Homo sapiens: one gene and its partner. The protein of the gene in region 2 interacts with the protein of the main gene of each other region in a biochemical or structural test. Each region holds a gene or a part of one and is shown on either strand. Other genes may lie near its edges.

What was found.
Region 1: the proteins of RNF38 (region 2) and KPNA4 interact in a test that uses a peptide from one of them, tested with the Homo sapiens proteins (one large-scale study listed by BioGRID and IntAct).

What each region holds. Positions count from the first base shown.
Region 1 is NC_000003.12:160,562,772-160,566,707, reverse strand, and holds the start of KPNA4 (importin subunit alpha-3), read left to right. Parts: upstream 1-1,136; 5' UTR 1,137-1,425; coding exon 1,426-1,494; intron 1,495-3,936. UniProt on the Homo sapiens protein: Functions in nuclear protein import as an adapter protein for nuclear receptor KPNB1. Binds specifically and directly to substrates containing either a simple or bipartite NLS motif.
Region 2 is NC_000009.12:36,347,813-36,352,411, reverse strand, and holds part of RNF38 (E3 ubiquitin-protein ligase RNF38), read left to right. Parts: intron 1-1,212; coding exon 1,213-1,297; intron 1,298-4,599. UniProt on the Homo sapiens protein: Acts as an E3 ubiquitin-protein ligase able to ubiquitinate p53/TP53 which promotes its relocalization to discrete foci associated with PML nuclear bodies. Exhibits preference for UBE2D2 as a E2 enzyme.

The DNA of each region.
Region 1 (3,936 bases), on a different chromosome or scaffold from region 2:
ATCTGCATTTTAAACACTTATCTGCACGTTGTTCTACTAAAAAAATATACTAGAAAGGACCGAGAGTCAACGATTCTGAAGGAGTTTGTATCAGGGTCTCTTCTCCCTACCTCGTCAAGTTTAAACACACCCAACGCCTCGATTCCTTGCTTCCGACCCGAGTTGCTGCTTTACATATCCCTGTACATTTGAGGTGTTATTCGTTGATATTTCAATATATTTTAAAATAATTTTCCATTTCTGTTTTGTTAAATTTTTGAATACGTTCTTTTGTATCTCGTGTCATTTCTGCCTCTGGTAACGTTGTCCTTGGTATCCTTGGAACTCATTTCCTTTCTCAACACACAATATTCCCTGTCAGCTGCCACGGGCCCCGCCCTCCAGAAGTTCATACTTTGTGGTCAAGCAGCTTCTTTAACTTTTTAAGACGAATTACCTAGGAAGTGCTATTGTCCCAGGATCACCAGCTCTGCCTAAATTCCTAACTGTTGCGGGTGCTTAGTCACAGAAGATGAATCAGATTCGTCTAATGGGCCCTTTCCTTTTCCACCCACCTTTCCTGTCGCTTTCCGCTGAGCCTCCTCAACTCACGTCATCCCAGCAGGTCCTGGCCCCCAGACCCGGCCCTGGACGGCACGGAGCCCCAGCCCGGGAACGCAGCTGCGAGCGTCCGACCGGGAGACAGCGAAGCTCAGATCTCTCTGCAAAGCGAACGGAGAGCGCAAGGAATGCCCAGGAAGACAGGGCGCGCCCGGGGAGAAAAGAACGTTACTTTAACGCAGCCTCGACCCTGAACCCCCGGCATCTAGGGCTTCCTGGACGAGTGGAGCAAAACAACTCGCCCTGCTGCGTTCCCGGGCCTCTCCTTCCCCTTGCTGGTTTCCCCTTAAGTCTACTTCTCTATTGCTTCCAACCCCTCTCTCCGAAGGCACGTGGTCCTTCCCCGCCTGCCCCCGCCGCACCCCTCCGGGCCCGGAGCCGGCTCCTCCCAGCGTCGTTCGCTTCCCCTTTCCGTTCGCTCTTTCCGCCCCGGCTCTCCATCGCCCCTTCTGATTGGTCGAACGCACCGGAGCCTGGTTAGCCAATGGGCGAGCCGGGCTGGAGGCGATGGGCGTGGCCGCAGCGCCGGGGCCCTCAGATCGAGGCTGCCTCCCCCTCTCAGCCGGCAGCACATTCCGTCGCCTTGCCGCCGCCCGGCCCCACAGTTGTCTTTGCCGGAGCTGCAGTCGCGCTGGGGTTAGGGCGGGGGGGCGGGCGGGGAGAGGAGAAGGCCGCGGCGGAGGCAGGTGAGAGGAGGAAGGAAGCGGCGGCGCGGCGGGCACAGCAGCTCAGGCGGCGGCCCGGTTCCTGGGAGTGTCGGTGCGGCGCGTTGGTTGGGGCGGATCCCGCGGGGCCCGGGCGGGGGAAGGAGTCACCGGCCCGGCCATGGCGGACAACGAGAAACTGGACAACCAACGGCTCAAGAATTTCAAGAACAAAGGCCGCGACTTGGAGGTAAACTCGGGGACGACGCCGGAGGGGTGGGGGCTGTGGGCCTGGGGCCGGTCTCCGCCGGGACCCCGAGTGTGGGGATTAGGGGCGGGAGCCGCCTCCAGGCCTCGGGGAATGGCGCTAGGGGCCGGCCCGTCTGTGACGCCTCTGCTAGCGCGCCGGGAAGTTTATGTCGGGCCTGCTCCGCCTCCGCCGGGGAGCGAGGTGCCCGGGTACGGCCGGCGCGGCCTAGGCCTGCCCGGCGGAGCCGGCCCGGCGCGGGTGCGAGGGGCCGGGCCGCGCGGCGGGGAGGCCGGGCGCGGCGCGTGCGGAGGAGGCGTGCGTGTGCGGCCGGTGCTGCCCCGGCCGGGCCGCGGCCCCTTCCCCGGCAGTGGCGGAGATTCCGGCTCTCGCTCGGGCACCGACGTCTGGCGCCGCGGGAAGGAGGGCGGTGGGAATGGGAGGGTGAGCGTGTGGCGACCGAGTGGGGCTCTGAACTTCCTCAGCGAGGCCCGAGGCGTCTCCACTTAAAGGCATTTTTTCTGGTCTTCCCGACTCCCGCTTTACCCCTGCCTCCCCCCAATATCCAAACTACAGGACAACTTCTCCGTTGAAAAAAACACCCCCGGCGTGAGAGGCCATCCTGGTGATCCTAACAGTGCCTTCCAGCGGCCTGTGTTTTACTCTGGATATAGCTGATTCAAGATGTGGCTCACGGTGTGCCCTCTTCCAGGCAAAGGATACCCCTTATTTCAGCTTGTCCACAAATCTCTTTACCCCCTCCTGAGAGGAGACCACCAGCTGCATTCTTACATATAAAGTCTAAAGGGTTATACAAAGCTGTCATCCTCTAGTCTACAGTATCCTTTCCCTCCACCTGCTGGTGGTGGTAGTGGGGGATGGGGTGGGCTAGGGAATGGCACCATCACGTTTGATTATTTAAAAAGGAAAAAAAAAGCTTCATTGTCTTAGATACAGCTGCTCCCGAGATTGTCTACATAAGGTGTATGGGTTAAATACACACATGCACACACGCATACCCACACACCCCACTGAGATTTTTGATAGAAGACTTCTTCCCTTCAGCTTTTAAGAGTTTAGATAAATAGATTTAATACTTCCCTTCTGCATCTTAATCACGAGTTTAGCTTTTAGGGAAAGTGGTCAAGCAGTATTTTTTATGTTGTTCTCGGTACGTTTTCATAATGAAATCTTCAACTTCCCATGGCATTTCTGAACTTGAGAGTCTGCTTGACTGAGATATTTTTTGGGCTTTTTACAAAGCTGTTAATATTATCTTTAAAGTAGTTCAAGCGTTTTAGTGGGTTTCATAATTTGAGGGACGACTAAGTGTCCAGGGATGTTAATTCTGTGGTTCTTTTAAGGTTAACATATTACCATTGTGATCCCTTTTTTTAATGCAAAGATGTCACATCTTTATTGAGATAATTTGCATGCCATAAAAATGAGCTTCTTAAATAACAATGATTTTTCAGTAAATTTACTTGTTTATGAAAGAATGTGGTGAAAATGTTTTTTACTAATATGAATACTTAGAATGAGAAAAAATCACAAATGATAAAACTTAAAAACTGGTAAGTACCACAAAATTACAGAATCCAGAAAAATAGCAATTAGGTGCTTGACAGATCCCTATAACCCTTTTTTCCTCTACATTTCTGGCTTCATTTTTCTGGCAGCTTCATTGAGATGTAATTCGCATGCCATACAATTCACCCACTTAAAGTGGCTTTTAGTGTATTCGCAGTTTTGCAACCATCACCACAGTCCATCTTAGAACATTTTCACGGCCCCAAAAAGAAACCTGTACTCATTAACAGTCACTCTCCAATTCCCAACTACCCCAGCCCCAGGCAACCAGTTTTTGTCTTCTTAGATTTGCCTATCCTGGACATCCCATATAAATGGAATTGTACAATTTGTGCTCTTTTTTAACTGGCTTCTTTCACATAGTGTAATGTTTTCAAGGTTTATCCGTGTTGTAACAAGAATGTATCAATGTTTCATGGCCGAATGATCCTTATGGCCGAATGATCCAATGATCCTCCAGCTCATGGATATACCACATTTTATTTATCCCTTCTTCAGTTAATGAACATTTTCATTGTTTCCACTTTTTTAGCTATTTTACATAATACTACTAAGAACATTTTTGTGTGGATGTATGTTTTATTTCTCTTGGCTATATACCTAGGAATAGAATTGCTAGATCATATGGAAACTTACTTTGAACCTTTGGTGGAATTGCCAGACTTTCTGAAGTTATCCTTATTTTTTAAATTGATGTTTCCTCCTACCTCATATCTTTTGGCACTTTAGTCAAAATCAGATTAAGTCCTGAGGCTGTATTAGAAGAATATTGTGATGTGTGACTTTTAAAAAATAAGTATATATTGACATTAGCCAGGTTTTTTTGTTTTGTTTTGTTTAGAAATTCATAGTGCC
Region 2 (4,599 bases):
GGAGAAAAATTTATTTATTTCTATGTCTTAGAACTACTCTATTTGGATTAAGTTGGTCTGTAACAGAAATTCCCATGGGTAGGTTTGTTGTTTTTTTTTTTTAATTTGAGATGGAGTCTCGCTCTTAAGTCTGTGCTGGAGTGCAGTGGCACCACCTCGGCTCGGCTCACTGCAAGCTCTGCCTCCCAGGTTCCAGCGATTTTCCTGCCTCGGCCTCCCAAGTAGCTGGGATTACAGGCATGGACCACCATGCCCAGCTAATTTTTGTACTTTTAGTAGAAACAGGGTTTCGCCATGTTGGCCAGGCTGCTCACGAACTCCTGACCTCAGGTGATCCGCCCATCTTACCCTCCCAAAGTGCTGGGATTACAGGTGTGAGCCACTGCGCCCTGCCAGTAATTATTTATTTCTGTCTCACATAATAAAGTCTAGAAGTAGGCAGCTCAACGATGATTTCGTTAGCCCTGTGACTATGAACAATGTTAATGGCTTCCTGTATAAGATCTAAGGTGGCCTCTCAGGCTCTAGTCATATGACATTCCACCTAGCAAAAATAAAAATAGATTCCTCTGCCTACCTGCTCCTCTCAAGGATATGTCCCAGAAGTGGCACGTATAACCCCTGCCTCTGTATCACATTGGCCAGAACTTAGTCACATGTCTATAATTACTTTCTGGGAATGCTAGGAAATACAGTTTTTATACCAGAAGGCCACGTGCTTACGTTACCACACTGTGGTCATAGTTTTTCCTTCCTTCCTTCCTCTCTCTCCCCGTTTTCTCTATTTATCTTTCTATCTTAATGTCAGATATAGTATGTCTCCCAATTTGGTCTTAAAATGTTTCAGTTTAAGGTCTTTTGCATTTCCTTATAAATTTTTAAATCAGCATGTGAGTTTTTACTTAAGTGCTTGCTGCAATCTTGGTAGGTATTGCATGGAATTTATAGATTATTTTAAGGAGAAAGTGACATCTGAATGATATTGAGTCTTCTAATCTTCTTATGTGGTATATTTCTGTTTATTCACCTTTAAGTTATCCTAGCAATCTATTTGCAGTTTTTATTGTACAGTTCTTGCATATGTTTTGTTAAATTTGTCAGATTAACACTAACCATTCTTCATCCTTATAGCACTGGCCTCTGTCCTCCCTGTCCTGTTCATTGATTTAATGTACTAACATATCAATGCTAGTGTGATTGTTTTCACTGCAGATCAATGCTTCCAGTGCCACCTGCAGTGGGCCCAACTTTCAGCTTTGAATTAGATGTAGAAGATGGAGAAGTAGAAAATTACGAGGTTAGTAGATGAATTGTGAATTAATTTGGGGAATATTGTGTGCATGAAAGTATTATTCTACTTAACTCTTTAAACCACAGGTGTCCAATCTTTTGGCTTCCTGGGCCACATTGGAAGAAGAATTACTGTGTTGGGCCACACATAAGATACACTAATACTAATAGTAGCCAATAACCTTTTAAAAATTTGCAAAAAATACATCTCATTTTGTGAAAGTTTATGAATTTGTGTTGGGCCACATTCAGAGCCATCCTGGGTCACATGCAAGCCATGTGTTCAACAAGCTTGATCTAAACATGTATTAGGTAAACACTTTGTGGATTTCAAGATACAAACATGTCATAAAAATGTTTTAACATGTTTAAGGATATTTGAATATGTAATACCACATAGCTATGATAACAGGTAGGTAGATTGGTGCTCTATTAGAATTACGTACAATTCCAATGAGAATGCAAATGAGAAAACAGTGAATTTTGATTAGGCATGCTGAAAAGATTTTGTGGAAGCCAAAATGTTTGAGCTAGATCTTAAATAATGTATAAGCTTTTCATCTTTAAGATTTAGGCAGAGAAGGGCTAGACATTCTTGAGAATCAACAGATGGTCTGTGGTTAACATAAAAGGGAGAAAATCGGCAGTTGATTGAAAAGCTCAATTGGTTGTCCTTCAGTGCTTGCTACAGAGTGGACATGATTTTGAATATTGTGGAGGAGGAAGGAGCCACTAAATGTTTTTGGTGCTTTATGGCATCAGTACTTGTGAAGAGTCCAAACTCTGCCACTACTGTGAAGTAATCGATGGGAGTGGTTAGAAAATGGTGACAAGGAAACCCATTTAGATGTTGTAATAGGTAAGGCAATAAATTATAAGACCATGCATGTTCTGAACCTTAGGAACTGCGAATAGAAAGGAACACAACAGTCAACCAGTTTTTGACAAGGCACCCAAGAAAACACAATGGGGGAAGGATAGCCTCTTTAAGAAATGGTGTTGGGAGGCTGAGCGCAGTGGCTCACCCTGTAATCCCAGCATTTTGGGAGGCCAAGGCGGGTAAATCACCTGAGGTCAGGAGTTCGAGGCCAGCCTGGCCAACATGGTGAAACCCCGTTTCTATAAAAATACTAAAATTAGCGAGGCGTGGTGGCGGGTGCCTGTAATCCCAGCTACTCGGGAGGGGGAGGCTGCAGTGAGCCAAGATCACACCATTGTACTCCGGGCTGAGTGACAGAGCAAGACTGTCTGAAAAAGAAAAAAGAAATGTTGGGAAAACTGGATACCCACCTGCAAAAGAATGAAACTGGACCTTTACACCATACGTGAAAGTTAACTCAAAATAGATTAAAGACCTAAACTTACTACCTGAAATGATAAAAGTGCTGAAAGAAAACAGGGGAAAAGCTCCTCGATATTGGCCATGGCATTGGTTTTTTGGCCATCACACCACAAGCATAGGCAACAAAAGCTAAAATAAATAACTAGGACTACATTGAACTAAAAGGCTTCTGTACCGCAAAAGAAAGAAACAGCAGAATGAAAGGCAGACTACAGGTTGGGAGAAAATATGAAAAACATCTGATAAGGGGTTAATATTTAAAATATTCAAGGAACTTACACAACTCAGTAGCAAAAAAAATGAATAACCCAATTTAAAAAAAATGGGTGGAGGACCTGAATAGACATTTCTCAAAGAAGACACAAAATGTCCAACCAGGTATATGAAAAGGTGCTCAACATTGCAATCAGGGAAATGTAAATCAAAACCACAATAAAATATCACTTCATACCTGTTAGGATGGCTGTTTTCAAAAAGTCAGTAAGTATTGGCAAGAATCTAGAGAAAAGAGAATCCTTTATTCCATGGGCTGCAGAGTGAATGTTGTGTTAGCAGGCAGGAAAACCAGATTCATCTCTTTGTACATCTTCATCAGAGCACTTGAGCAGTAATATTTTGAAAGGAATCTTTTTCTCTTGAACAAGTCTCAAGTTGTCTTAAAATGTTCCATAAACCATACTGTAAACAGACGTTTTGTCATCCAGGCTTTATTATTGGGCAGTGTAGATTTAGCATAATTTCTTAAGGGCCCACAGAATGGCAGATGATTATTGGCTTCAGCCTACAGTCACCAGCTGTGTTATCCCCCCAAAAAGAGTCAGCCTGTTCTTTGAAGCCAGGCACTGCCGCCTTTTCTTTCTAGCTATGAAAATCTTAGATGGCATCCTCTTCCAATATAGGGCTGTTCCGTCTACATTGAAAATCCATTGTTTAGTGTATTCACTTTCATCAATGATCTTAGATAGAGCTTCTGGGTAACTTGCTACAGCTTCTGTATCAGCATTTCCAGCATCACCTTGCACTTCGTTGTTATAAAGATGGCTTCTTTCCTTATACTTGATGAACCAGCCTTTGCTAGCTTCCAACTTTTCTTCTGCAGCTTCCTCACCTCTCTCAACATTGATAGAATTAAAGGACCTTGTTCTGGATTAGGTTTTGGCTAAAGAGAATGTTGTGGCTGGTTGGATTTTCTATCTGTATCACTCAGACTTTCTCCATATCAGCAATATGGCTGCTTTGCTTTCTTATTCGTGCGTTCACTGGAGTGACTTTTCTGTTTTCTTTTTGTTTGTTTGTTTGTTTTGTTTGAGACAGGGTCTTACTCTGTCACCCAGGCTGGAGTGTATTGCCACGAACTCCGCTCAGTACAGCCTCAACCTCCCAGGCTCAAGCGATTCTCCCACCTCAGCCTCCTAAGTAGCTGGGACAGTAGATACATGCCACCACACTTGGCTAATTTTTGTGGATTTTTTTTTTTTTCTTTCAGAGATAAGGTTTTGCCATCCAAGGCTAGTCCAAGTGTTGGGATTACAGTCATGAGCCACTGTGCCCAATGAGAATGGCACTTTTTCTATTCGAACTTTGCCTTTGCCTTTAGAACATGGTTACTGGTTTGGTGCAAGAGGCCTACATTTTGGCCTGTCTCCGCTTTGACATGCCTTTCTTACTAAGCTTAATCATTTCTAGTTTTTGTTTTGTTTTTTTGAGACGGAATCTCACTCTGTTGCCCAGGCTGGAGTGCCGTGGCGCAATCTCGGCTCACTGCAAGCTCCGCCTCCTGGGTTCACGTCATTCTCCCGCCTCAGCCTCCCGAGTAGGTAGGACTACAGGCGCCCGCCACCATGACCGGCTCATTTTTTGTATTTTTAGTAGAGACGGGGTTTCACCGTGTTAGCCAGGATGGTCTCGATCTCCTGATCTCATGATCCACCCGCTCAGCCTCCCAAAGTGCTGGGATTACAGGCATG